Linked DNA regions of Homo sapiens. The protein of the gene in region 2 purifies or fractionates together with the protein of the main gene of each other region. This does not show direct contact. Each region holds a gene or a part of one and is shown on either strand. Other genes may lie near its edges.

Region 1 (6,816 bases), on a different chromosome or scaffold from region 2:
AAGAGGGCGCAGCCTGGGTTAGACTGGGGAGAACACTGTTCCGTTTGCCTGGAACACAGAGTGGAGCGGGAGGAGGCGAGATGGGCAAGGAGCTGGAGGTGCCAGCAAGGCTTGTAAACCTTGTTAGGGGCTCGGGCTTGGATCAGAGGGTAGTGGGAAGCCGCTAAAGTGTTTTGGCTGGGGGCATCTTGGTCAGAGGCAGCGATGTGGATGGCTGATGACACACCCCTGTCATCACGGGAACAATGCAAATGCCACATTCCAGCTCTGGGCCTCACTCTGCTCTTTGCTAAATCGGGAATGGCACCACTGCAAGGGCTGCTGTCCAGCAGACTGTGAGATGCTGAGCACACACCAGTGCCCATGGCCACGCTGCACGGAGGTGCTCTTCTCTGGACACTTGAACGAGCTCAGCAGTGAGCCATGCGACTCGTGGAACCCTGGCCTGTCCCACTTGGGATTTTGGGACCTGGGCTTTGAGGCGCCACACAAAACAACAGAATCGTCAAGGTGAAATGAAATGAATCATTTAATGAGAATCTTCAAACTGTGGCACTGGCTGAGTACTAAGCAAATCCAGGGGAAGACGTGAAGCCCACCAAGGCGCACAGCCTCAACTCCGGTGCCTGCCCCTGATCTGAAATACAACATCCAAGAGCTCGAGGCCTTTTTACCACCCGTTTGTGGAGCACCTGCACCTTTCTGACAACAACTCTCAAGCCAACTTTCAGAGAGAAAACATGAAGGGAAAAAATAGATTTCCTTTGGCCAGACAGCTCTTTCTTCCTCAATAAATAGGAACCACACTTGGAACAAAGAGACAGCGTGAGCTCGGTGGGGGAAGCACAAGCTTTATTGGCTGAAAGTTCTTCTCAGGAGCCTGGTCTGCTGGGACTGCATGTTCCTGGATGGGCTCCCCCAGGCCTAAGCTAGGAAAAGGAAGAAAAAAAAGGAGAATTTTAAGTCCAAAGGAGGTTTCTGAAGTAAGACCCCGACAGAGGTGAAAGCGAGACTGTTATTCTCAAAGTGCTTTCAAAAACATAGTTTGGTCAGTAAATATTTACCTAATAAACAACGATGAGATCATACTGTATTCATTCATTCAAGAAATATTCATCAAATGCCTACTATGTGTCAAGCATTGTTTGCTGTATTTCTTACTGGTAAAAATAGCATACAAATTTAAAACTTAGAACCCCTACTGGCGACAGGGCATGATAAAACACAACTTTTCATGCACTGCTGGCAGAAACAACTCTCTGAGGAGGACATGTCCCCTGGTTCCACCTGCACCTTCATTTTTCAAGAGGTCCTTTCTGGCCCTGCACTCCTCCTGACCTTCCACTGGCCTGCAGTGAAAAGACTCAAAGGGCATACCTCCAGGTTTCCTCTGGCCTTCCGAAGGATTTTGTGGGTTACGACCACTGAGGAGAGAGCAAAGAATGCAATGATTAGGGCCATGGATATCCAGGAGAGCTGTGTGAAAGCCAAGTGCAGGGAGGATGAACCCCACCCCAAAGGGCTCGGACATGTAGACAACACGAGGTCTGAAGCATCCAGACCAGAGGGAGGTACAAAGGGCCCACCTGACCCATCACAAACCCCAGGGCCAAATAACGCATCAACAACACCTCTTTGAGGCCCCGCTAAGCCACCACCTGACAGTGATGCAGAGGCTACAGCATGCTATGCCGGTTCAGAGAACACCCTACAGCTGTGCACGGCCACCTGGCTGTCCAGGTATCCCTCAGGCTCACTTCTGTGGGCCAGGGAGGGCAATGGCGCAGGGAGGGTAGAGGCCTGGGCCTGCCCAGCACTCTTTAGTTTCCTAGGCCCTCTGGGAAGCAGCTGTGGGAAGGGACTGTGCCCCGATCAGGCAGACCCACATATGAGGGTCCAAGTTCTACGAAGCCAGGTTTTTACCCAGCAGCTCTTAGAGCCAGCTCCAAATGGCCTGGAAGAAAAAACCGTGGGCATGCTGCTTCTCCTTTGCCTGCCCTTTAGCTGGTGGAATAGCCCAGCCTGATTCCTCTGGGCAAGTCACATTCTGCCTGGACAAGAGCTGGTTGGGTGGGATGGTTTCAGAGGTCCCTGCTGACACTGACGCCCGGAGCACTGTACTAGAAAGATCCCCCGTGCATGAGAATTCCCAGGAGGGGCAGGCGAGCCCTGGCTTTCAGGAGCAACTGTAAAGGTGGGTCTTCCTTCAGGCTTTTTCTTGTCCAACACAAACTCCAGCAGTGGCAAGAATGCCCCTCTTGATCAGAGTTCTGAGCCTGATAGGGAATCTGTTCTCAACAGGGCTTGGTGAGAGTAAGATCAGCTTACTCCCCACGTTGGAAATACCAAAGGCTTCTGGAGCCGCGCCTTTAGCCAACAGTGCCAGAGGCTGTAACAGACTCAACGCCCAACACACATAGCCTGACTCCCCAGTGGCTTCTTCAGAATAGGTGTCTGTCGTGTGGTGGCCTTGAGAAAATATTGATTTCTTGCCTCACGAAAATTTCCATCTGGAGGTAATGGAGTTTATTTGCAATCTGTGACACTGGGGACGGGACAGACGGTGTGGACTTTGTTTTTAGCCAAGCAAAACGACTTTCAGAGGTGGCCACTGCCCCTCTACCCCAACCTGACCTCCTGCTGCAGGGCAAAGTTCCTGACATGGGGCCCTGGATATGTTTGGGGGGTCAGTCCTAAACCCTCCGACACTGTGTGCAAATGGGGGTATGTATCTGGACGTCCGCATTTTTCCACAGAGAGACCACAGCTTTCTCCAGATTCACCAAGGGGCCTGAGACCCAGAAAAGATTAAGTATCACAGCTGTGGAGGTTGAAGATGATTGTGAAAGAGCACTCCATGTCCCTAGAGAACAAAGCTCATGGCAGAAGAACTAAGGATCACTTGGCTCAAGCTTTGAGGGGACCCCTACACCTCAACAGCACTGCCACGTTCCAAAGCACAGAAATCCCCACTGCAAGGAGAAGACCGAGGAACACAGCGACAAAGGACTCGTCCCAAATCTAGACTGGCCCCAGCACAGAGCTGGGACTCACATGTGGGCCTGCCCAACTCAGTCCATGGTTCTTCCCACCTCAGCAGAGTGCTGGGAAGAAGGTACCGACCTGAGCTGAGCAGTGTTGACCTGGTGACAGGTGGTTTCCAACGGTGGCCTCACTGAATACTCCCCCACCCTATGGGGCAGAACTACTGTCCTCGCTTTGCAAATGAGGACCTGAGGCAGCTGGTTCCAGGTCACATGGCCAGTGAGTGGCCCCAGGGCATCAGGACTCTTAGGGTCCCACTGGGATGCCTTTTCCTTACTTTCCCCTGTAGACTCTGAGAAGGTATGGTGTCAGTTTGACCAGGTAGCAATCAGCCCTGGCCTTTGCTCTTCCCCATCACCATGAGGGGACGGAGGAAGAGGAGGTGCTATGCCAACTTTCTCCTAGTCCCTTTAGACCCAGAGCAGGTCTGTGAAGTCCGCAGGGCTTGGAGAATTTCCAAGGACCTGACTCCTTGGGATGAGCTGCAGAGCCTGGCAAAGGAGGAGTTGCAGGCCCGGGTCAGCCACCAGCTATGCTGCCTGGAGCAAGCCCCTCACCCTGCTCTGGCGGAGCCTGCTCTGTGCCAGGCCTAGGAGATATGGAGATGGACAATACCAGCTCAGGAGGGGAAGTGCTATGAGACATTTGCGGCTCTTCTTACTATGAATGATTTGCCACCTCCATGCATAGGATTTGGTCTGGCCTAATGGAAAGAAAGAGGAGGGACTGGTTGAGCATCTCCTCTGCCCCCGAGACTGTGCTAAGTACAATACAGTTTAGGTAGCGTTATCATCCTTATTTTACAGATGAGAAAACTGGGGTGCTTTTTATAAAGTTGCTATTGAACCCGGGACCAACTAGTTAGTCTGAGTCCTTTGGAACTCACGTCTCCAGTTAGAGATGAGGAATCGAAAGCTTAGGGTTCTAGTCTAATGCAGGTCACATAGGAGAATGGAGATCTGAACTGTGCTCAATCAATAATTCCATGTTCTCTGACCTAGGACACAGGGGATCTGGGTTCTAGTTCTGTCCTTTTGACCGACCACAGTACTCAACCCATCGAAACCTACTTCTGCAATTTTCTCACCTGTCAATAGGGTTAGCTACCTGCCCTGTGACTGTTCAGGGCCAAAGGCTGCTGAGGAGGAGAGATGCCAATGCAGAGAGTTCTGCCTTTCTCTAGACCTATGCAGAGCATTGCTCCCCACCCCACTGCTGCTCCAAGAGTCTAACCTAAATATTCCACAGCTGCCTTAACAGGACCACAGCTGGCACTGTCTCTCTCCAGGTTCCCCTCAGTGCTCTTTTTCTCTACGAGTGACACGAAACCCTCAACCAGAACCCCACAGACATCCACCACTCTGCCAGGTTGACCTCCTTACAATCTTTCAAAACCATCCCTTCTCCCCCACAGTCCTGACCCACTGCCCACCTGGGGGACTGCTGCAGCCCCCAAAGAGGTCTTCCCGGCCTCCTGGCCCCTCCAAGCTCAGCCATGGGATCTTGTAATACACGCATGGACCCCGCCGGTCCCTGCTGCTCGTCCTGGAGTCCTGTCCACAAGGCTCCTTGCAACCTGGTTCCTGCTTCTCCCTCTCACTCATCTCTCAGAGGAAAACCCTTTGCACGTCCTAAGCATGTCCCTGAGCACTCAGTTCTCTCTCACCCCTGGGAGCACACCAGCAAGTCCACAGGGCCATCTGCCAGAATCCTATTCCTGCCCCTTCGCTGACAAATTCCTAGTCATTCTTCAAGACCCAGTCAGTCTTGAACCACCTCTCAGGCCTCCTAGGATGCACTCAGCACATCGTCCTGCAGCTAAGCTCTGTGTCTCCCCTATTAAGCCCACGACCCTCACTGGCAAAGACTGTCTCGTTCATCTCTGTCCCCAGGACCTGGCGTAAGGGGCAAAGAACAGGAACTCAGTGCCTGCTCAGTGGCTGCGCTCCTCTCTTTTGCAGTCCAAACACTGGCAGTCTCACAGAGTCTATTTTCAGAAGGTTCCCAGGGGTGGCTAAGGAGAACTCCTACTTGGCAATAATCTCTGTCCTGTGCTTCTCAGAAATGCCCCAGAAATGTTGGACTTTGACAGGAGAGCCGCACAAGGCAGGCTGGCACCTCCAGAGAAAAAGTGCTGCAGTCAGCAGTTCTCTTAAGACAGGGAAACTGACACACAGACAGCGCAGGCTTGGCCAGGGCCATGTTGCCAACAGGCACTAATGGAAACTCAGCTACCGCCTGCTCCTCTAAATGCAGCGGGAGGGAGTGCTGAGGGTTTAAACCAGGAGACAGAGCTGCTCCCAAACAATCTCCAAAGTGGCTAGATCAGAACTGGGACTGACCTTACAAAAGTTACTTAACCTCACCAACCCTGAGTCTCGGCATCTGCCTTGAGAAGTATTTCTCAAATCCATGCCCTCCTCTGGATCCCCAGCGTCCTAGCCACCTTTCCTGTCTGACTAGTGAGTCAGCCTCCCCCTCACTGGTGGAGCAGCCACCAGCGAGCCATTCTTGCACACAGATGTGACAGGCCAATCCTCTGCCCTGAGCCTGCCACCTACAGTCTTTCATGAAGTACTCCCTGACCCCCAATCCCTCCCACCTTAATTCACTGTTTGCAGCCTTTACCCCACAGGGACTGGTTTTGGTTTCTCACATACAAAAACTTATTTCCTGCCTTTGTGCCTCTGTCCATGCTCTTCCCTGAGGGACTGCCACTCCCCGCTCCATGTGACGACGTCTGCTTTCATTTCACACTCAGCGAGGTGGTCACTTTGTCTAAGACGCCCACCTTGCCGGGACAGAGTGACGGCCACCCAACTCCCACCCCAGTGCTCTGCATGTTCCCATCACTGCACATGCCACACGACTGTCTCCCAGTGAGACGACAGTCCCTGACACCAAAAGGCCGCTCTACAAAGGTGTGTTAAGTGAATACATTTGTCTATGTGAGTCAGAAAGGATGGAGTATGAAAAGAAGCCCACAGATAGGAGGCATGATTACAAACCATCTGGGCTCCAAAGTGGGTAATCCAGGGCAGAACTGGGAGCCCTCGGAGGCAGGAAGTGGTCAGGCATAGCGGCCACCCCCACACTCACTCACATTGATCAAAGATGACTTTTTCCTGGCGCTTGCTCAGCTGCAAAAGCTTCATGGTGTTTTGCAACTTCTTTTCTTGTTCAAACAATTTTTTATGTAGTTTGGTGACCTCTGCCTTCATTTCTCCAATCTAAAGAGAAGAGAAATTAGAAAAATGAACAAAGAACATAAACATCATGTTACACAGGAAGAATTACAAAGCCATATAAAAAGATGATGCTCAACCTCACTAGCAAAAATATTTGAATGGAAACTAGAAGCCTTTTCCTGACAACCAGGAAAAGGCAAAATTGGACAAAACTCATTGAGGGTAAGGGGAAAGCACCTCGTGACCTCTGGTGGAAGTGCGGGATGGCATGGCCCAGTGAGAACGCCCTGGCAAGATCTACCAAACTGAGATGCGCTTAACTCTTTGCCCCAGCAATTCTACACGCTGGCATTTCCCCCAAGGAATAATAACATAAGCACAAGAAGATGCCTATGTACAAGGATGTTCGTCTCAGCATTGTTCATGGTAGGAAAAAATAACCTGATTTCAGTATAGATCTGGATAAATTATGGTACTTACATATAATACAATAATTTAGCAACTATTAAAAATGACGTTGTAGAGCTCTATGCATTGATATCAAAAAATGATCACAGTTAGTGACAAAAGAGCCCAGAACAAC
Region 2 (7,023 bases):
GATCCTCTGTAAACCAAATTTAGAAAGAGACGATAAGAAATTAGGCTGGTCCCACTTCCCGCATTACAAATGCAGGAGCCTATCTGGAGACAGAGTAGTGAGCATTTCATGTGTGCATCCAGAACAGTTATTCTGGGATACCTCAGCTTGTGTCTCTAGAGAAGTGACCCCACTGTCCCTGACCTGCCGGTCACCATGATGACTTCCTCTGCCCTAAATCAGGGTAAAACATTTATAATGTCTTTTGTTCCATTAATCATGAGGCCCTTGCCCAGCTGCCCTGCGGGACACTCCAGCCTCCATGTCCTGCTGCAGACTAGCTCCCCAATGCATATGCCCCACCACAGCTTTCATGCAGAACCTGCACTGGTCTCTGAGGAGATGACAAGAAGCCCTGCCCCACCTCTGCATCTGCCACCAGGTGGTGGGCTGGGTGGCTCCCAAGTCTGATCCTACTTTACTCCCTTGGATAGTCGCTGGAAATTCTGAGTAGAAGACCCCAATAATAACCAATGTAGCCCTTGAACTACTGCAGCCAGTGCCTAAACCATGTATAAAAGAGCATGGCGCTTTATCCATATGTGGAGTACCTGCATGCACATTACCATGCCATAAATGGAGACACCACAAGGATAAGGCATTTAGCGAGTTGGTGGCAGCATCCAGGCCAGAGCTTGAGTCTTGTAGTTCTTGGTTCAGGGCTCTTCCTCCTATAACAAAGCCCTTCCATCTCATGTCCCCTACTCCCTCTTAGCATCAGAGAGATGCTGCCCCTGCCCCACAGGTCACATTCCATTAGTGGTGAAGTTTCTATAGTTGTAACCATGGCATCTCCAGCCCTGTGTTTTCCTCTCCATGCTCCCCACTGAGCAGTCTTGATCCTGTATTAGCCCCAGGAAATGAAATAGAAACAGGACCTTAGGATAAAAAGTTGCAGTGGAGATGTGGTGGCCACCAGGGGCTGGAACTGTGGGGGTGACTGAGAGTATTCCAAAGCCCTGTGGCCAACTTACTGGTGCTGAGTTTGCTGGTGAGCCTCTCTGTCAGCTGGCTTCCCTGGGCGAGTTGCTCCCGGAAGCTCTGTCCCAGGTAGTAGTCAATGTCATTGCTCCTTAGGAGATCCTCAAAAGATTTTACTGTATCTTTTGCATGCCGGGTGATAAGATAACAAATACCTCTCCCTTCTCGTATTTTTTGCCGTAGGTAAGACAGTTCCCGGGCCTGATCCTGAATCAGGGAATCATATTTCCTAATGCAGGACAGAAGAGGAAAGTGTAAGTATGGAAAGAGTGGAAGCTAACTTATGGAGTTATGGGGGCTTCTGTAGAGATTTCTATGAGAACATCTCTAAGGAACTCCCCCAAGCTGAATTCTGGCACATAAGCCATAGGAGGTATTTAAGAGTAAATTCTACCCTGATAAAGTATTGCATTAAAAAACTTAGTACGGGCCGGGCGTGGTAGCTCACGCCTGTAATCCCAGCACTTTGGGAGGCCAAGGCAGGCAGATCACAAGGTCAGGAGTTTGAGACCAGCCTCGCCAATATGGTGAAACCCTGCCTCTACTAAAAATACAAAAAAAATGAGCTGAGCATAGTGGCACATGCCTGTAATCCCAGCTACTCGGGAGGCTGAGGCAGGAGAATTGCTTGAACCTAGGAGGTGGAGGTTGTAGTTAGCCAAGACGGCACCACTGCACTCCAGCCTGGATGACAGAGTGACTCCGTATCAAAAAAAAATTTAGTATGTCACTGTTCTTCAACTGTTATACATGTGTTAATTATATGTCCCTAGATAAATCATAAGGTCTGTGAGAATAAACATAGTTCTGCATTTTACATCCCTTACAGCACCAGTATCACATAGATTCACAGCAGTTACTCAATGAATAATTAGCATCATTTCATCCTAAGTCTAGATAGAACCTTTCATGCCTTCTGTTTTAACCACCACCTGATGCCTGAATTTCTTCTATGTTACGATACTGTGGCTGACTACATTTTGCAATGATGGCCATCATTTAAACGCTCATACCATCAACTGATGGGACCCAAAACAAGAGACCCTAAGTGAGAACCACCCAGCTGAGCCCAGTCAAACCATAGAACCATGAAGCATAATAAAGTGTTGTTTGAAGTCACTAAGTTTTAGAGTGGTTATTACTTAGCAATAGATAACCAGGACACACCAAGATGAATGTCTGTGTTTTCAACACTAAGTATCAATAACACTTATAACTATGGCAAATAGCATTGAGAGCTTAACATATGCTAGGCACTATTCTAAGCACTTGTATTAATTCTTTTTTTTTTTTTTCCGAGACAGACTCTTGCTCTGTCACCCAGGCTGGAGTGCAGTGGTGCCATCTCGGCTCACTGCAACCTCCACCTGCCAGGTTCAAGCGATTCTCCTGCCTCAGCCTCCCGAATAGCTGGGATTACAGGTGTGCACCACCATGCCCAGCTAATCTTTGTATTTTTAGTAGAGATGGGGTTTCACCGTGTTGGGTAGGCTGGTCTCGAACACCTGACCTCAGGTGTTCTACCTGCCTTGGCCTCCCAAAGTGCTGGGATTACAGGCATGAGCCACCACGCCTGGTCAGCAGTTGTATTAATTCATTTAAACCTAATATCCACCCTTTGAGATGGGTTCTCTTATCATCCTCATTTAATAGGTAAGGACAAAGGCTCAGAAAGGTTAAGAAGGTTGCATGGGTAGTAAGCACCAGAGGTAGGTAGTCTGATTCCAGTATTACTACTATACTATACCATCTTTACTAATATATCCCTAAGAGGAAATCCCTGAGACCCGGTATCTCCCAGATACTGGAACATCATCCTATGCCCTCCTGGTTGCCTACCTGTCTTTTCTGCAGACCTGTATCTACCATTTAAATCAGTGTCCCTGTGAATACCCAGACATGTTCTTTCTTCCAACTGCCTGAGCTACCCTACGCCAAGCATGAACTTACACATTTTCAATCAAGAAAGTACCCAAACAGTGCCATCCTTACCCAGGCCACGAGGCTGATCTCAGCTCCTCAGCCAGCTTCTCTTCTAGTCCATTTTTTGGGAGCTGGGCCTCCAGCTGGGATACTCTCTGGATGAGACTCTCCAGGTCCTTTTTGGCCTGAAGCCCTGGAGAGTAGAAAGCCCCAGTGCCATCAGACAGCCACCCCTCATCCTCATCAGGGACACTATGAGGTGAAGACCCCTCCAAGGTGCCAACAGCTCTCAGCTTCCGGGGTCTTTCCAGACTAGACGAATAATCACTTGTAACTGAGAGGGACCGGACCCGGCTCTTGAGGTTTTGAATGACCTTGTTGGCATTCTGCAGCTGGGCCTTCAGATCTTTGATGTCCTTTCGTAGGACCAAGATGTTTTCTGACTTTCCATATACCCGGAACTCTTCCTGCTTCCCTAGCTGGTTCTCCAAGGGCTTCCTCTCAGAGGAACTAGCCAGTGTTGAGCCCCGGCGTCCCTGCTCAGAGCACAGCCCCTCCATCAGGACCATTTCCTTGAGGCTGTTGTGCTCCTCACACTCTGAAAAAAGACAAAGATGTCTTCCTAAATAAAAGTTGGATGTGCTGTTGTGGCCACTGCCTTTGAGAGGAGGCAGGTTTGGTCATGAGGACAATAATTACTAGGGAAAAAGTTGAAGTAGTACTTTATTCAACCCTGACACTGTACTAGGCATTCAAATACAATATTTCTTATCTTCCTTATACCTACAAGTTAGGTTTCATCACTTTCTATTTTACTGACTGGGAAACCAAAACTTAAAGAGAGGTGGTAAACTAGCTTGTTCTAGATCACTCAAACTAGCACATGGCAGAGCCAGAATTCAAATCCTCCAATGTCCTGTGTTCATTCCACACACACTGGTGTTTCTTAAGACATTAACATGGCCTTATCTATTTAGGATGGCCACAAGAATGTAGGACAAGCTATTACTGCATGCTGAAAGTTTAATGCTCTTTAAATTTTACTATAATTTAAAAGTTTATTGGGTTACAACTGTATGAAAAATAGGCATAGGAAAATAAGGCTTCAAATAAATATATCAGCATGTTAACATCAGTGTATTAGGGCAGTGGTAGTCAGAATGAGAACTAATCCATGGCATTTTACCAGATGCCAGGCACTGTTCTAAAGCATTTTATAAGAATTTACTCATTTAATTGACCTTAGTACCTGATGGGGTAGGTAGTTCCTTTATTACTATTTTAACACATGAAGAAACTGGGACATAGGAAAGTTTTCAAACTGGGATTTGAACCAACCAGTCTGGCCCCAGGATCTTGTCTCTTAACTGCCACACTACACTGCCTCAAGAATGAGAGAGATTGTGTTTTTCTTCTCTTCTGGTTTTCAATGTGGTGGGTGGCCCTATAGTTGTAGTCTTTTTATAATGCAAAACAAAATTATTTTTAATTTATGGCTTGCATGTTTCTAAAACCTTATCTGGTCTCTAAGTAGGCCTTAGTATTTCTATAATAATCAGTTGGATAGAATTTTATATTATTATTGTTATTAGCAGTATGCCAAAAACTAATTGTAGAAATTCAAACTTATACTCAGCCTCATTTTGGGTAAGATTTCTCCTATTAACCTCCTGTCCTCCTCTTCCCCAATACTTGTCAGGTGTGGAATTGGCCAACAGCATCCAAATGTGACAGCTGACTCCAGGGAGGGGTGAGCCCCACACCCTGTGCTCTTACCAGGACTGGTGGTTTCCTCCCGTTCAGCCTCATTCTCGCTTCGGCCACAAGTCTCATAGCCCAGGTCCTGGAGGTCCACCTGGATCTGCTTGCTGTCCTGCTTCACCAAGGATTCACCTGCTTGGGAAGAGAAGCAGGTGTTACAGAATGTCTGAATTTCCCACATATGCCCTCAGCCTCAATGGCACATACCCTAACCTTTTGAGGCACGGAAGGCAGATCCACAGTGGGAGAGAAGCTTCTCTGAACTGGTGGGAGAAGAGATCACCAGCTCCAGGAAGCAGAATTTCTTTCCAAAGGAGGAGCCTGCATTTGCCATTATCTCCCCTTCAGATAACCCAGGCTTTAGTTGGGACCAGATATCTGTAAGTCAGGGATTGTACACTATCATCTCTAGCAGCCCCATTGAAGCTGGCAAGTGCTTTATCCGCAGGGGTTCAATAAATGTTGAATGGAGCTGAACTAATTTAGAGTCCCAAGACCCTAGACCTGTACTGTCCAATAAGGTAGTTAGCAGCCACATATGGCCACTTTATACTACATCAACTAAAATTAAATAAAACCAAATGTCCAAGTTGCACTAGCCACACTTCGTGTGCTCAATAACCACGTTATGTCGGTATAGAACATACAGAACTTATAAGACATATAGGCTAGTTTTCTTTACTAGTAAGTCATAGTTACTTACTAAGCATAACTCTGTATTTCTCCAGCTCGTTAGCCTGAGCAAAGACAGTGGCTTCTGATAGCAGCAGCTTCTCCTGGAGATCTTGATAGCGTTGTTTGCATTGTGACAGCTGGGAGCGCAGGTGCTGGGTGGACCCTGGTAGGCTAAACGCTGACTGAGGCCCAGGGTCACGAGGCTGGGACTGGTTATCCAACTGTGAAAGGGGCCAATACAGGGATCAGGACAGTCTGAGGTCACCCCCATGCAGTGACGACCACCGCCCCTTCTGAACCCTGTGGACTTTACTCAAGTCTGTCACAGCACTTCTCATGCCATTTGGCAGTGACTTGCTTTCCAGATGGAGCTCCTGGAGCGCTGGGATAATGTTTTCTTCATATCTGTATCCACAGCACACAGCACAGCACCAATCAAGTCTACAGAGGAGCTCTCAGGAAATGTTTTCTCAGTGGTCAAAAAGAGACCACTCATCTCCCCTCACATTCTGTCCCATTGATTCTCTCAGAATCCCTGTATTCTCCATTTCACTGAATCTTCAGCATGGCTCCTTCCCTAAAGAGGATCCCAGTAACCCATCTGAAGCCCAGGAACAGACACCTGTGATGAGCTGTGACAAAAAAATGGCAGTGATAAGGGATGTCATTACATACCACTTGTCTGGGCTGCCTCATAACCTGATGCATCCCTATGTTACAGCAGTTACCACATCCTGTTAAAATTACCTGTTTGTGTGCCATCTTTCCCGACAATATTAAGTATCTCAGGGGCAGCCATTGGTTTTATTGCCCCATGCCAATGCCTAGTGTGTTATCTGAAAAATTAAGTACTCAAGAAATATTTATGTTATAAAAGCCTTTCTAAAGGCTGAATGTAGGCAGAATATTACTATTATTGTTTGTGGTACAAAGAGACCCTTCTCTTGGTACCTCCTGATTCATATGGGAGAATGTTTTAAGGTAAACACTGTCATCTCAAGCCCTTCTCCAATTGTTTTTCACTCAATCTAAGCCCACACTTACTTGGTGGGCATCCACTGTGAAGGTAGCCCCAAGGTCAAGGCTCTGGGGTCTGGGGAAAGGCCTCACAGTCACATTCCCCTCCTCTTGGTGTTGGTGCTTCCCAGGGGAACCAACCAGTTCTGTGTTTATTCTTTCAATGGTGCTGGTCAGATGCACAAGGAGCTCTGGAGTAAGTTTACTATTCCCTTCCTTGCTACTCAGCACAAGTTGTTCTTTGAGGAGGTTGATGATATTGTGGGCATTCTTCAGTTTTCCCTGGAGCTTTCTGAACTCAGCCTGAAGGCTACTCTCACTCAGACCCTCTTTGGTTACCACAGTCTCAACCATCACCTCGCCCTTCTCCTTGTCTTCCTCGATCTCCCATCCATCAGACATTGCTTCTCCCATCTGCTCTTTCAGCTCCGCATTCTCAAGGCAAAGGCTCAGCATGGTGTTCCTGCAGGAAACACACTTAATTGAGGGCTAGGTCTGGTCCTCACAACAGTTCCTAATACTACCTCTTACCAACATCTCAGCCCGCAATTAACTCAGACTTACCCCAGAGCATGAAGCAACCTGAGACCTACCACAGCCCCCTAATTTTATATACAAGAAAGCCAA
Region 3 (7,023 bases), on a different chromosome or scaffold from region 2:
GCAGTGCACGACCAAGCCCCCTGGGAATGCAGAGGAGTCCAGCATACTTCAACATGCAGGTGGTCTCCCAGACCCTGTGGGTTTCTGTTTCCCCTCTGCTGAGGAATATGTGATATTTCAACCACCACAAAACAAAACAGAGCAAACAGGGCAACTTAGGTGTCCAAACTGAAGTTGCTGCCAGGCACGGTGGTTCTCACCAGTAATCCCAGCACTTTGGGAGGCCAAGGTGGGCAGATCACCTGAGGTCAGGAGTTTGAGACCAGCCTGGCCAACATGGCAAAACCCTGTCTCCACTAAAAATACAAAACTGAGCTGGGCATGGTGGTGGGCACCTGTAATCCCAGCTACTTGGGAGGCTGAGGCAGGAGAATCACTTGAACCCAGGAGACAGAGGTTGCAGTGAGCCAAGATCACACCACTGTACTCCAGCCTGGGTGAGAGAGTGACATGCCGTCTCAAAAAAAAAAATTGAAGTTGTTGATTTTGTGCATTTTTTGAGCCCCAAAAGGTGGCATGCATCTGTAGTCCCACTAGTCCTGAGGCTGAGGTGAGAAGATCATTTGAGCTCAAGAATTTGAGACCAGCCTGGGCTGCATAGTGAGGTTTTGTCTCTTTTAAAAAAAAAAAATTGGCTGGGCGCAGTGGCTCGTGCCTGTAATCCTAGAACTTTGGGAGGCCGAGGCGGGCGGATCACGAGGTCAGGAGATCAAGACCATCCTGGTTAACATGGTGAAACCCCGTCTCTACTAAAAAAATACAAAAAAATTAGCCGGGTGTGATGGCGGGCGCCTATAGTCCCAGCTACTCGGGAGGCTGAGGCAGAATGGCGTGAACCCGGGAGGCGGAGTTTGCAGTGAGCCGAGATCGCGCCACTGCACTTCCAGCCTGGGTGACAGAGCGAGACTCCGTCTCAAAAAAATAAAATAAAAATTATACTATTATTTTATTTTATATAGGTGGACAGTTTTATATGTGTAGATTTTAATATATATTTTTATACATAAAATAAATCTATATACAGAAATTTGTAAGTTTAAGATACAGGCTGGGTACTGTGGCTCATGCCCTATAATCCCACTTGGGGAGGCCAAGGTGGGCAGATTGCTAGAGCCCAGGAATTTGAGACCAGCCTTACATAGCAAGACCCCATCTCTACAAAAAAATACAAAAAAAAAAAAAAAAAGTCAGGTGTGGTGGCACATTCCTGTAGTCCCAGCTCCTGGGGAGGCTGAGGTGGGAAGATCACCTGAGTCTGGGAGGTCAAGACTGCATGAGCCCACCTTCATCCCTAGGATGCAAGGCTGGTTCAACATATGCAAAAAAAAAAAAAGACTGCATAAGCCGTGATCACGCTGCTGCAGTCCAGACTGGGTTGTAACCCAGTCAGACCCTGCTGAAAGAAAAAAAAAATTTTTAACTTATAAATTTGTCTTATTAACTTATAAGTTTACATACGTAGTTTTATTTGATTTTATTTTTTGAGACAGAGTTTCACTCTTGTCACCCAGGCTGGAGTGCAGTGGCACGATCTCGGCTCCATGCAAACTCTGCCTCCCGGGTTCAAGTGATTCTCTTGTCTCAGCCTCCCAAGTAGCTGGGACTACAGGTGCATGCCCCCTTGCCTGGCTAATTTTTGTATTTTTAGTAGAGATGGGGTTTCACCATGTTGGCCAGGCTGGTCTCGAACTCCTGACCTCAGGTGATCCGCCCCCCCCGCCTTGGCCTCTCAAGATGCTGGGATTACAGGCATGGGCCACCGCGCTGGCCTTGTAGTTGTATTTTAGATAGATAACTATAGATTCACTTTACATACAACAAAATGCACAGTTCTTCAATGTTCCATGCTACAAGTTTTGACAGTTGTATATAGCTACCTAACCTCCACCCAAAACAGTATATGGAACTTTTCTATCACCTAAGAAAATTCCCTTGAATCCCTTTTTTTTTTTTTTTTTTTTCCAATAACATACAGAGGTGGAGGCCGGGTGCCATGGCTCACGCCTGTAATCCCAGCACTTTGGGAGGCCGAGGCGGGCGAATCACAAGGTCAGGAGTTCGAGACCAGCCTGACCAACATGGTGAAACCCCGTCTCTACTAAAAATATAAAAATTAGCCGGGCGTGGTGGTGCACACCTGTAATCCCAGCTACTCAGGAGGCTGAGGCAAGAGAATCACTTGTTTCCAGGAGGCAAAGGTTGCAGTGAGCCGAGATTATGCCATTGCACTCCAGCCTGGGCAAGAGAGCGAGACTGTCTTAAAAAAAATAAATTAATCAAAAAAAAATATATATATATATATACACACACACACACATATCTACATACATACAGAGGTGAGGTCTTGCCTATATTGCCCAGGCTGGTCTCGAACTCCTGGGCTCAAGCGATCTTCCCACCTCGACCCCCCAAAATGCTGGGATTACAGGGGTGAGCCACCGCACCGGGCCGAATCCCTCTCTTGACACGTCACCTCCCCACCAAAGGCAGTTGTCCTTTCTGACTTCAAACACCGTGCCTTTGTTTTGTCTGGGCGTGGACATGATATAAATGGAATCATTCATGTTCTTTTGTGTCTTCTTTTGCTTAACATAATCAGTTTGAAATGCAGCCACATTGTTGAGTGGATGCATGGGCTGTCCTGTTGGCGGTGGTGGTGGTGAGTGGAATTCCATTGTATGACTATAGCTCAGTCTGTGATTCCATTTTCCTGTGGATGGACCCACAGGCTGTTTCCCATGTCGGGCTATCTAAGAATCAGGTGCCTTGCGTTTCTGACGGCTGGACTGGAGGTGTCTTCCTCTGGGGTAGGCTCTGCAGGGCCACCTGCTGGACCATTTTGGGGCATGACCACTGACGTTCACCTCCCCATTTGTCCCCATCAGTGAGCCCCATGCCCGTTTCTACGCGGCCCAGATCGTCCTGACCTTTGAGTATCTGCACTCGCTGGATCTCATCTACAGGGACCTGAAGCCGGAGAATCTGCTCATTGACCAGCAGGGCTACATTCAGGTGCCCACCAGGCCGGGCGAGGGGCAGCCCTGGGGAAGCCGTGGCCTGGACCCTTCCTCCCTGCCAACTGCCTGTTCTTGTGCCCACAGGTGACAGACTTCGGTTTCGCCAAGCGCGTGAAGGGCCGCACTTGGACCTTGTGCGGCACCCCTGAGTACCTGGCCCCTGAGATTATCCTGAGCAAAGTAGGAGCCTCCCCAGCCCTCCCCTTCCCCTGAGGCCGGCTCTGCTCTCCTGCTCTCGCCTCCTCCTCACCCTGTGCCCCCCCATCTTGCTCCAGGGCTACAACAAGGCCGTGGACTGGTGGGCCCTGGGGGTTCTTATCTATGAAATGGCCGCTGGCTACCCGCCCTTCTTCGCAGACCAGCCCATCCAGATCTATGAGAAGATCGTCTCTGGGAAGGTGAGGTCCGGATGTGGGGACACAGCCCTGGAAGAAACAGACCGTTCCCTGCTCACCCATCCTATTCCCTGGGGAGCCCTGCTTGTTGTCAGAATAATCTAGAAGTTCCTTAAGTCAGGCCAGGTGGTGAAGCTGGACGCGCCGGCCACACTGAGGCCAACACCTCAAGCCCCCTTGCTGTCCAGCCCCAACCCCGCGGTTCCAGAATCCCATGGGCTTCCAAAATCCCGAGCCTCACGGGAACATCTTGGCCACAGAACACAAACCGCCCTGCCAGACGACCCTCCTTTTCGCTCCTCATCCCAGTTAGTGTGAGTTTTCGCAAATTCCAAGGCAGAAAAACGAATGTATTTGGTTCCTGTTCCCAGGTGCTGTCCATAGCCTCACCCAGGATTGCCCTCACTTAGCATTTATAGCCCATGCTTCCTCTCCCAAACCCAGACTTGCCTAACTCTGAGGGTTCAGATGAGGGGTGGTGAAGCCATCTCAGCTCACATCTATGACAGGTGCAAAGTGCCCACCATCCACCAGGCCCCAGAATCCCCATCAGTCACACCCTGAGATAGTGGCACCCTCTGTAGGAGAGGTGAGGAAACAGGCTGGGAAAAGGGATGTGTCTTGGCCAAGATCACACTTTGGTGAGTAGGTAATCACCGTAGGCAATCATTGTAGGCACTGATGGCCGGAGAGAGGTTGGGGACCCCACCTCTGCCCTCAGCTCAACCACCTTGCTGGGAAGACCCGACCATCCCCCGACTTGGTCCAGCATCTCCTACACAGGAGCTTTTGGTTGGCCCGGAGTCATGACACTGTGGTGGGAGCACCCTCAGGCTCAGCCTGGGCCCCAGTCCCAGCTCTGCCACCGACTGGCTTTGAAACTTTGGGGCTGGGTACAATGGCTCACACCTGTAATGCCAGCACCTTGGGAAGTGGAGGCTTGAGGCCAGGAGTTCCAGACCAGCCTGGGCAACATAGCCAGACCCCATCTCTAAAAAAAAAAAAAAAAAAACAAACTGGCCGGGCGCGGTGGCTTACACCTGTAATCCCAGCACTGTGGGAAGCCAAGGCGGGCAGATCACCTGAGGTCGGGAGTTCGAGACCAGCCTGACTAACATGGTGAAACTCCGTCTCTACTAAAAACACACACAAAAAAAATTAGCTGGGTATAGTGGTGGGCGCCTGTAATCCCAGCTACTTGGGAGGCTGAGGCAGGAGAATCACTTGAACCCAGGAGGCGGAGGTTGCAGTGAGCCAAGATCACACCATTGTACTCCAGCCTGGGCAACAGGGCAGGACTCTGTCTCAAAAAAAAAAAAAAAAAAAAAAAACTAAAAATTAGCTGGGCGTGATGGTGCACCCCTGTGTTCCCAGCTCATCGGGAGGGTGAGGCAGGAGGATCGCTTGAGCCCAGAAGTGAGCTGTGAGCTGTGATTGCATCACTGCAGTCTAGCCTGGGTCACAGAGCCAGACCCTGTCTTTTAAAAAAATTCAGGCAAGTGGGGTGCCCCAGCTGGACACATAGCATCACTAAAAGAGAAAGATGAAGGCCAGGCGCGGTGGCTCACACCTATAATCCCAGCATTTTGGGAGGCCAAGGCAGGTGGATCACGAGGTCAGGAGTTCAAGACCAGCCTGGCTAACATGGTGAAACCCTGTCTCTACTAAAAATACAAAAATTAGCTGGGCGTGGTGGCGGGTGCCTGTAATCCCAGCTACTCGGGAGGCTGAGGCAGAGAACTGCTTGAACCCGGGAGACAGAGGTTGTAGTGAGCCGAGATTGCGCCACTGCACTTCAGCCTGGGTGACAGAGCAAGACTCTGTCTCAAAAAAAGGGAAAGATGAGGCATCTGCCACCGGACCAAAAGAAACTGCCAAGAAAATGGCCCAGAGTTGGCCGGGTGTGGTGGCTCACGCCTGTAATCCCAGCACTTTGGGAGGCCGAGGCGGGCGGATCACGAGGTCAGGAGTTTAAGACCAGCCTGACCAACATGGTGAAACCCCGTCTCTACTAAAAATACAAAAATTAGCCGGATATGGTGGCACACACCTGTAATCCCAGCTACTCAGGAGTCTGAGGCAGGAGAATCACTTGAAACCGGGAGGCAGAGGTTGCAGTGAGCTGAGATTGTGCCACTGCACTCCAGCCTGGGCAACAGAGCAAGACTCCATCTCAAAAAAAAAAAAGAAAAAAAGAAAAAAAAATGTCCCAGAGTGGGAAAAAAAAGAAAGAAAAAAACACAGAAGATCCCACAGGAGAAGATGCACATGACTCCCTTCTTTGTAGCATTTTCTAGTTCCCCCGCACCGTCAGTGGTATTATCTCCCTCGTGCAGCCCTGGCATATCTGCCCCACATCTGAGAGGCATGCGCAGGCCCAGAGAGGTTAAGGGCCATGGCCAAGGTCACACAGCGTGTAAGAGGCACAGCAGGAACAAGAAGTCGTTTCTTGCAACTATAACTCCAGTGATGACTTGCATACAAGGCGTGGGCTCAGAGGGTTTGGGGAAAACTTTCAAGAAGAGTTGAGCTGGGCTTTAAAGAACGGAAGAGCCTTAGCTATGCAGAAAGAGAGGAGAGAAAAAGTTTGTCATAAGCAAGAATATTTCAGAAGTCTCCAGACCCCAGCAGAGATGCCTTAAGCAGCAGCAGCAGCAGCTGAGAATGCAAGTTCTAGAGTCCAGTAGACCTGAGATGGAATTGCCCCATCACACACCTCAATGTGACCTAGGAAGAGCTGTTTAACCCAAGCCTCAGTTTCCCCTTCTCTGAAATGGAAATCATCATAGCACTTGCCTTAGAGCAATGGTTCTTAAAAGGGACCCCTTTCCAGCAGCACCATTGCTGGGGAATTTGTTAGAAATGCAGATTCTTGGGCCAGGCACGGTGGCTCACACCTGTAATCCCAACACTTTGGGAGGCCAAGGCAGGTGGATCACCTAAGGTCAAGAGTTCAAGACCAGCCTGACCAATATGGTGAAACCCCGTCTCTACTAAAAATACAAAAATTAGCCAGGTGTCTTGGCGTGAGCCTGTAATCCCAGCTACTCAGGAGGCTGAGACAGGAGAATTCCTTGAACCCAGGAGGCGGAGGTTGCAGTGAGCCCAGATCGCACCACTGCACTCCAGCCTGGGCTACAGAGTGAGGCTATTTTTTTTTTTTTTTTTTTTTTTTTTTCAAAAAAAGAAATGCAGATTCTTGCTGGGTGTGGTGGCTCACGCCTATAATCCTAGCACTTTGGGAGGCCAAAGCAGGAGGATCGCTTGAGCCTAGAAGTTCAAGACCAGCCTGGGCAACGTAGTGAGACCCTGTCTCTACAAAAACTTCTTAAAATAACTAACTCTTGAATTTTTAAAGTTTTTAAAGAAATGCAGATTCTCAGGCCACAGTATCAGACTTCCTAAATTGGAAACTGTAGGGTAGGCTCAAGGAGCTGTTTTACAAGATGCTGGCAGGCACTCTGCTTTGGAGGCCCACACCCAGTAGGACCGTTGGATGGAGAAAGAAGCATCATGGGCTTCCCAAGTTCCAGACCAGCTTCCCACCCTGTCCTTGTACCCCTTCCTCCAGGTGCGCTTCCCTTCCCACTTCAGCTCTGACTTGAAGGACC
Region 4 (7,924 bases), on a different chromosome or scaffold from region 2:
TAATTTCCTGGTGTGAAAACAAATTTGATAGCACTCTTTTCATTTCAATGCTGAGCTCTCAGAGTTCATTTGCCATTGCTTCCAGTCTGATTCTCTGAGAAACTGGTGCAAATTGCTTTGCAAATCCACAACCAAAGAATCAGTATCAGTGATGCTCTTTTAAGGAATATGAGATACATAGTTCCCATAAGCCACTGTTCAAAAGGCTCAAAATGAAATATTCTGAAAATGAAAGCAAAAGAAATCATAAAATATTACCAAAAAGGTTATGTGGTAGTGAATAAAAGCCAGAATATGATTTGAGAAGTGAACATTTGTTCTGAGAACAATGCTAATGTAATGGGAATATCAGGACCAAGCTTTACTTTTTCAGGTCATGGTTATTGATTTAAGAACTGATGCAAATGAAAATTACCAAAGAGCTGTTTGCAAAGATGTTTCAAGTCCAATAAGTCTTGTTTTAGTATTATACTATTGTAAATCTCTCAGGATGAAAAAGACTATATAGGTCATCTAATCCAATTACGCATTTCATGCTTGAAATCATTGCTATATTCTTAAAGAAATGAGAACCACACAACCTTGGCATTGTGGTTGATGACAGAGAGCTATCTACCATGCTTCATATAATAAATCTACAAGAAGAAATAAATGAATTTGGAAACACAAAATGGCATTAACAAGATATGGCTCTTAATAATGTTTGGAAAAGTAGTGCTTTTTTTAATTTTGTCATTCCTAGGGAAAAGGTATTAGACATTGTGGCAGAGATTGATAATTATCTCCAGACTTTTTTTTTTTTTTTTTTTTTTTGAGACAAGGTCTTACTCTATCACCCAGGCCGGAGTACAGTGGCACAACCACAGCTCACTGCAGCCTTGACCTCCCTGGGCTCAGGCGCTTATCCCACCTCAGCCTCCCGAACAGTTACGACCACATGTATACCACCAAGCCTGGCCAATTTTTGTATTTTTTTATAGAGATGGAGTCTCCCTATGTTGCCCAGGCTGGTCTCGAACCCCTGGGCTCAAGCGATCCACCCTCTTTGGCCCTCCAAAGTGTTGGGATTACAGGAGTGAGCCACTGTGCCCGTCCAGACTTGGTTCTTTTTAATTCCCAAATGTTTACTTGGCACGTGACTGCTCAAAATAAATATTACATTTCCAAACTTTCCTAATAGCCATTGGTTTCAGTTGCTATTGCTGTGTAACAGATTATCTCAAAACCTAGAGGCCTACAACAACCTTTTTATTATGCTCACAGATTCTGTGGAACAAGGCTTCAGCCAGGGCATCCAGTACAGGGCTGGCTTCTTCTATCATGCTGACTTGACTTTTACAATGTTCTATTGGTCAAAGAAATCACAAGCACATTCAGATTCAAGGGGAGGGGAAATAAGACTTCAATTCATTAGTGAGTAGTGGCCACGCCACACTGTAGGAGATATTGTTGTAGCCGTCTTTGGAAAATGCAATTTGCCACACCAAAGGTGTGGCCATGTTGACTAAGTTCTAGCCAAGAGGATAGAAGAGGAATTGTGTTTAACTTCCTAGAAGGAAGGGAGGGGAGGGGAGCTTCCCTTCTCTTTTTCACTTTCCTCTTAGCTAAAATATGACTGGCCCTGGAGCAGCCATTTTGGACCACAGACAGGATCATAGAGCAATGAGCTGGAGGGAGCCTGGGTCCCTGATGATCATGGAGTACCACACTGTGTCCGGAATTGGTGGGTTCTTGGTCTCACTGACTTCAAGAATGAAGCCGCAGACCCTCGCGGTGAGTGTTACGGTTCTTAAAAGTGGCGTGTCCAGAGTTTGTTCCTTCTGATGTTCGGATGTGTTCGGAGTTTCTTCCTTCTGGTGGGTTCGTGGTCTCACTGGCTCAGGAGTGAAGCTGCGGACCTTCGCGGTGAGTGTTACAGCTCTTAAGGCGGCGCATCTGGAGTTCCTCCCGGTGGGCTCGTGGTCTCGCTGGCTTCAGGAGTGAAGCTGCAGACCTTCATGGTGAGTGTTACAGCTCATAAAGGCAGTGTGGACGCAAAGAGTGAGCAGTAGCAAGATTTATTGCAAAGAGCAAAAGAACAAAGCTTCCACACTGTGGAAGGGGACCCGAGCTGGTTGCCACCACTGGCTCAGGCAGCCTCCTTTTATTCTCTTATCTGGCCCCACACACATCCTGCTGATTGGTAGAGCCCAGTGGTCTGTTTTGACAGGGCACTGATTGGTGTGTTTACAATCCCTGAGCTAGACACAAAGGTTCTCCATGTCCCACCAGATTAGCTAGATACAGAGGGTCCACACAAAGGATCTCCACGTCCCCACCAGAATAGCTAGATACAGAGTGGCGATTAGTGCATTCACAAACCCTGAGCTAGACACAGGGTGCTGATTGGTGTGTTTACAAACCTTGAGCTAGATACATAGTGCCGATTGGTGTATTTACAATCCCTTAGCTAGACACAAAGGTTCTCCACGTCCCCACCAGACTCAGGAGCCCAGCTGGCTTCACCCAGTGGATCCCGCACTGGGGCTGCAGGTGGAGCTGCCTGCCAGTCCCGCGCTGTGCGCCTGCGCTCCTCAGCCCTTGGGTGGTCGATGGGACTGGGCGCCGTGAAGCAGGGGGCGGCGGTCGTCGGGGAGGCTCGGGCCGCACAGGAGCCCACGGAGTGGGGGGGAGGCTCAGGCATGGCGGGCTGCAGGTCCCGAGCCCTGCCCCGCGGGAAGGCAGCTAAGGCCTGCGAGAAATTGAGCACAGCAGCTGCTAGCCCAGGTGCTAAGCCCCTGACTGCCCGGGGCCGGTGGGTCCGGCCGGCCGCTCCGAGTGCGGGGTCTGCCGAGCCCACGCCCACCCGGAACTCGCGCTGGCCCACAAGCACCACGCGCAGCCCCAGTTCCCGTCCGCGCCTCTCCCTCCACACCTCCCCGCAAGCTGAGGGAGCTGGCTCAGGCCTTGGCCAGCCCAGAAAGGGGCTCCCACAGTGCAGCGGCAGGCTGAAGGGCTCCTCAAGCGCTGCCAAAGTGGGAGCCCAGGTAGAGGAGGCGCCAAGAGCGAGTGCGGGCTGTGAGGACTGCCAGCACGCTATCACCTCTCAATACCAACTCTGAACTGCCCACATTTAGATTCCAGAGAAATAAATCTTAAGCTATTGTATTTCGCATTTTCTGCCACATGTGAGCAGTGTTTATCATAATTAATACAAATATTATCACAAATTTAGACAGGTGATACACATGCATCTTAGATTACCAGATCCGTAAAAATAATAATGCTTACACGGTAGAGAGTAGTACTAACATTGTGCTCCAACCGGTGACATGTGAGGCTCACCATATTTTATAAAAGTTTAATTCTTTTTTTTTTTTTTTGAGACGAAGTCTCACTCTTGTCCCCCAGCCTGGAGTGCAACGGCACTGCACGATCTCGGTTGACTGCAACCTCCGCCTCCTGGATTCAAGCGATTCTTCTGCCTAAGCCTCCTGAGTAGCTGGGATTACAGGTGCCTGCCACCATGCCCGCTAATTTTTGTATTTTTAGTAGAGATGGGGTTTCACCATGTTGGCCAGGCTGGTCTTGAACTCCTGACCTCAGGTGATCCGCCCACCTCGGCCTCTCAAAGTGTTGGGATTACAGGCATGAGTGAGCCACTGCGCCCGGCCAAAAGTTTAATTCTTAAAATGCTCGACACAATTAGAAGCACTTAACTACTGTATATTTAAAGCAACGTAACATTATTACTATAAAGTTGTTAAGAAATGAAAATAGAGAAATACATTGGCTCATGGAGTCAATACAGGATGCATCATTAACAAAGGGTTAACATCAAGATCCATTTTTACAAGAGGGACTAGTTCGTTACATCTCTGATTTCTAGACTTGGAGTTTCCCCAGTCATGTGTTTACTCTTCCGTGGGTGGGAAGATAAATCAGAATAACCAAGTGAGCTTGCTCTTGAAATATTTTATTTACAATGATATGATAATTGTAGAAAATGAAGTATGCGTACTTAAATAGAATTTAATTGACAAAAGACAATTTTCTCTACTTCAAAATTGTAAACATTTGCAAAGTAAGCCTCATTTCAAAGTCAAAGCCTTCTACTTTAAAAGCACACATTAGTAATTCTATTTTTCTTTATACTGAAGTATTTCAATTTTTGGACATACAAGTCAAAAATCATTCAAAGCATAAAGGAAAGTTTCAAAATAATAAGCGCCTCATCCTGCACTATCCTATTTAAAAGAGATCAACTAACTTTGATAGGTGCCTCTCAATAAATGGTGCCTTTGTCTCAATAAATAGTAAATGCGTGGAGTGCACAACGGAATAGCATCAGTAAGACGAAACATAATAAACAGGATGGATCGGGAAAGGCTGGATAAAATGTGGGGAAGAAAAAGAAAGACGTCACAAAGATGGGGTAGCATTTCTTTGTCCAAAAGAGAACCAGTACCACCATAAGACTTTAAACAAAGGACATTAGCAACACTTATCATGCAACTAGATTCTAGAAGGAAAATAAAATGCCACTACTAAGGTGGAGGCTGAAGTTTCAAGACAAATCTCCTGGCACCACCTCTGCGGGGGTTCACCATGGCGAATGACGCCTGGGAAGCGGGGCGAGTGGCCAGCCCGCTCCTGGACGCGCGGACAGGTGGACACGAAGGCGGCCTCGCTGGGCCTCCCTCCGCCTCTCCCGGCCCGGGCGCGCAGCCCTGCGGTGGTCTGACAGGCGGGTGCGCGGCGCCAGCCAGCGGAGGTTGCCATGGTTTCCGGGGGTCACGTGGGCGCGCTCTCCTGCGCCCCCTCCCGCGCACCGCGGCGGGGCGGGGGCGGGGCGCCCGGGCGGGGGAGAGGCGCGGCCGCGGCTGGAGCGGGAGGAGCAGGAGATGCTGCCAGCCCTCCCGGGGCCGCGCTCGCTCAGCCGCCGCCACCACACGGAGCAGACGCGCGCCGGGAGCCGCGGGCCGGGCCAGCCGGGCCGCCGGGGCCCAGTGCGCCGCGCTCGCAGCCGGTAGCGCGCCAGCGCCGTAGGCGCTCGCTCGGCAGCCGCGGGGCCCTAGGCCGTGCCGGGGAGGGGGCGAGGGCGGCGCCCAGGCGCCTGCCGCCCCGGAGGCAGGATGAGCATCGAGATCCCGGCGGGACTGACGGAGCTGCTGCAGGGCTTCACGGTGGAGGTGCTGAGGCACCAGCCCGCGGACCTGCTGGAGTTCGCGCTGCAGCACTTCACCCGCCTGCAGCAGGAGAACGAGCGCAAAGGCACCGCGCGCTTCGGCCATGAGGGCAGGACCTGGGGGGACCTGGGCGCCGCTGCCGGGGGCGGCACCCCCAGCAAGGGGGTCAACTTCGCCGAGGAGCCCATGCAGTCCGACTCCGAGGACGGGGAGGAGGAGGAGGCGGCGCCCGCGGACGCAGGGGCGTTCAATGGTGAGGACCAGACCCCCCACTTCGCGCCCCCGGATCCCCTCGCTGCCCCCCACCGCTCCCCGCTGTGCTCTCGGATCTTGCCGCTTTGCGCACCCACCTCTCCCCGCATTCTCCACCTTTCCCTACCTTCCCATCTCGCCCACCCCCTCAGCATCCATTTCTGTCTCTCCCACTCGCCCACCTTCCTACTCCGCTCTCTGTCATACCCTCTTCCCTTCCTCTAGAGGTGGGAGAGCTGGGATGTTACGCTTCCCTCTTACCCTTTGCCCCCTCTGCCTGGGCCGGTTGGGGTGGGCATCTGCTAGAAAGACAACTTTCGCTGTGGTTGGAGGTATTTCGCTTAGAGGATACCATTGTGCATAAAGAAACTGGCCCGCTTGGCGTCTTCTTTCAGCCCTTGTATTTATTAATGGAATGTCGAAAGAGAAAAGGAGAACCGTGTTTAATATGATTGGCTTTACTGTTGTTAGGACGGTAGATTCGCTAAAAGAAGCATGAAATTGGACTCACTGGGGCAGAACAAAATTTATGGCCAGTAGCTCTGACATTCTTGGAAATAAGAGTTATCTATTATTTTCCAATTTACCAATACCGTGTTGTGTTATTTTTGGACACGTAACAAAGGATTCTATTTAGTCTGAAACCCACGGGGGTCTTTGGAACGAGGAAATGGGTTAATGGTTTGCTTTTTATATAAAAGACATATTGAATGATTTGGTGCTTTATTTTTTTAAAAGTGTATGAGAAAAACACTGTAGGAAGTTCTGAAAGCTTGTTGGTTGTCTTTAGAATGAAAAGCCAGTGAGTAATTGTAAGGATTGTGCCAGACAGTAGAGCTAGAAAGAATGAATGGGAAAGAAAAAGGAATTTTCTCAAATAGCTGCTCCTGGCAAGTCCCACCCCTTCTGCTTACAACCCTCTTTCCCTAACACACCCAGACACACACCCTCATTTACAGCCCCTTGTATTACACAACATGCCCAAATCTCATTTTTATGGCAACCCAAGCTAAAATACCATGGAGTGCAGTGTGCAAGTGTTTTCTCTTTGTGGTGTAAGGCAAACATGCATGCAGCATTGCACCAGCTTTTATTTATTTACACTGCTTGTGGTTTGTGTGTCCGCAGTGTATTTCATAAAATGAAAACATTTAAAAGTGTCATTTCATTTCCTTGTGTATGCTCCTAGGAAGATGTTTCTTTTCTTTGCAGGATTACATGTTGAAATGGATTATAAAATTAGTGTATTTTTAGTTTCTCCAAAAGAATCCCAGAAACCCTGGAAATTAGTGCGCTGTGAAGATAAAAGTGAAGCTTGTTACTTACAATTTTAATTTTGGACTTCTAAATGTTTCCCCAAGAGGATAAACATAGTCTTAATAATTCTTTTTGCACAAGAATCGAATCAAAAGCTTTTCCTACCAGAAACGAGAAAGAGAAAAGAATGCATGTTTTAAATAGGTAAGAAGCAGCAGCCAGTAACGGATGACAGAAAGGGCAGAGATATCTAATACTTCTTTTATGCTCCTGACATGTTCGTGCACACACACAAAGGGGAAAAAAAGGACTCTTTTCCCAGGTTGGAGAAAACTAGGAACTAAGGGGCTTGGTAAAGACCATATATATATATATATTCTGTATGATATGTTGTTAATATAATCAAAATATTTTGTTTGTATAATGCATTTGTTGAAGTACTTTGCATTGATGATTGCATTTTCTCCTTATAACAATATATTGCGCACAGAAAAGATTCCATTTTCATTTTGTAGTGAAGAAATAAGCCGTTAACTTCTGAACAGCAGGGGTCATTTTATATGGCTTTATATTCTCCAAGGCACCTTTGCTGTAAAAATTGCTCAGTGTGACTTAAACAAGTTAAACTTGTTAAACAATTGCACTATTTACTCCCTAGCCTCACCCCCAAGGACTTTAAAACTTTTTGACTGCAACCAAATACAATTTGATCATTATCCAGGAGGCACATACATCTGTATAACAGAAACTTTGGCAATAGTACAGGTACTTCCTTCTGTCAGATGCAGTGCTTTTTGATATTTCCTATTTGAATCAGTTATTTCTCCCTATTTTAAATTGTATTGAGACCTCCAGTTGAAAAACATTTAATTATAGGCTACAAAGTGATTGGCAAGGTTTCTTGTAAAGGGCCGGTTAGTAAGTGTTTTAGACTTAGGGCAACATGTGGTCTTGATCACTTCTTCTTCAGTTTTTTTTTTTAAACACATACACCTTCTGAGGGTTGCGGTTGTACAAAATTAGCTGCAGATCAAGGCCATAGCTTGCCGACCCCTGGTTAGAAGAAAAAAAAAAAAGTCAAAATAGTACCATTGGGGGAAAAAACAGGAGTGATCCTAAAAAGTATGAGCCTATCAGTTTGACATCTATGTCCAGAAATGTGTCTCATTAGAAAAGAACCCCAGATACTGGGCAATTCTGGCATAGTAAAGAATAAGGATTGGAAAACAAGTCTTAATTTACTATGA

The links.
Region 1: the proteins of PDE4DIP (region 2) and CDK5RAP2 purify together in Homo sapiens (affinity purification with mass spectrometry; 4 studies listed by BioGRID and IntAct, with this or other methods). This does not show direct contact.
Region 3: the proteins of PDE4DIP (region 2) and PRKACA purify together in Homo sapiens (affinity purification with mass spectrometry; 5 studies listed by BioGRID and IntAct, with this or other methods). This does not show direct contact.
Region 4: the proteins of PDE4DIP (region 2) and PRKAR2B purify together in Homo sapiens (affinity purification with mass spectrometry; 6 studies listed by BioGRID and IntAct, with this or other methods). This does not show direct contact.

What each region holds. Positions count from the first base shown.
Region 1 is NC_000009.12:120,388,364-120,395,179, forward strand, and holds the end of CDK5RAP2 (CDK5 regulatory subunit-associated protein 2), read right to left. Parts: intron 6,276-6,816; coding exon 6,149-6,275; intron 1,425-6,148; coding exon 1,378-1,424; intron 930-1,377; coding exon 873-929; 3' UTR 512-872; downstream 1-511. UniProt on the Homo sapiens protein: Potential regulator of CDK5 activity via its interaction with CDK5R1. Negative regulator of centriole disengagement (licensing) which maintains centriole engagement and cohesion. Involved in regulation of mitotic spindle orientation.
Region 2 is NC_000001.11:149,001,427-149,008,449, reverse strand, and holds part of PDE4DIP (myomegalin), read right to left. Parts: intron 6,860-7,023; coding exon 6,424-6,859; intron 5,601-6,423; coding exon 5,408-5,600; intron 4,840-5,407; coding exon 4,720-4,839; intron 3,542-4,719; coding exon 3,013-3,541; intron 1,250-3,012; coding exon 1,014-1,249; intron 7-1,013; coding exon 1-6. UniProt on the Homo sapiens protein: Functions as an anchor sequestering components of the cAMP-dependent pathway to Golgi and/or centrosomes.
Region 3 is NC_000019.10:14,093,753-14,100,775, reverse strand, and holds part of PRKACA (cAMP-dependent protein kinase catalytic subunit alpha), read left to right. Parts: intron 1-2,885; coding exon 2,886-3,012; intron 3,013-3,101; coding exon 3,102-3,197; intron 3,198-3,292; coding exon 3,293-3,415; intron 3,416-6,983; coding exon 6,984-7,023.
Region 4 is NC_000007.14:107,039,794-107,047,717, forward strand, and holds the start of PRKAR2B (cAMP-dependent protein kinase type II-beta regulatory subunit), read left to right. Parts: upstream 1-4,911; 5' UTR 4,912-5,114; coding exon 5,115-5,421; intron 5,422-7,924. UniProt on the Homo sapiens protein: Regulatory subunit of the cAMP-dependent protein kinases involved in cAMP signaling in cells. Type II regulatory chains mediate membrane association by binding to anchoring proteins, including the MAP2 kinase.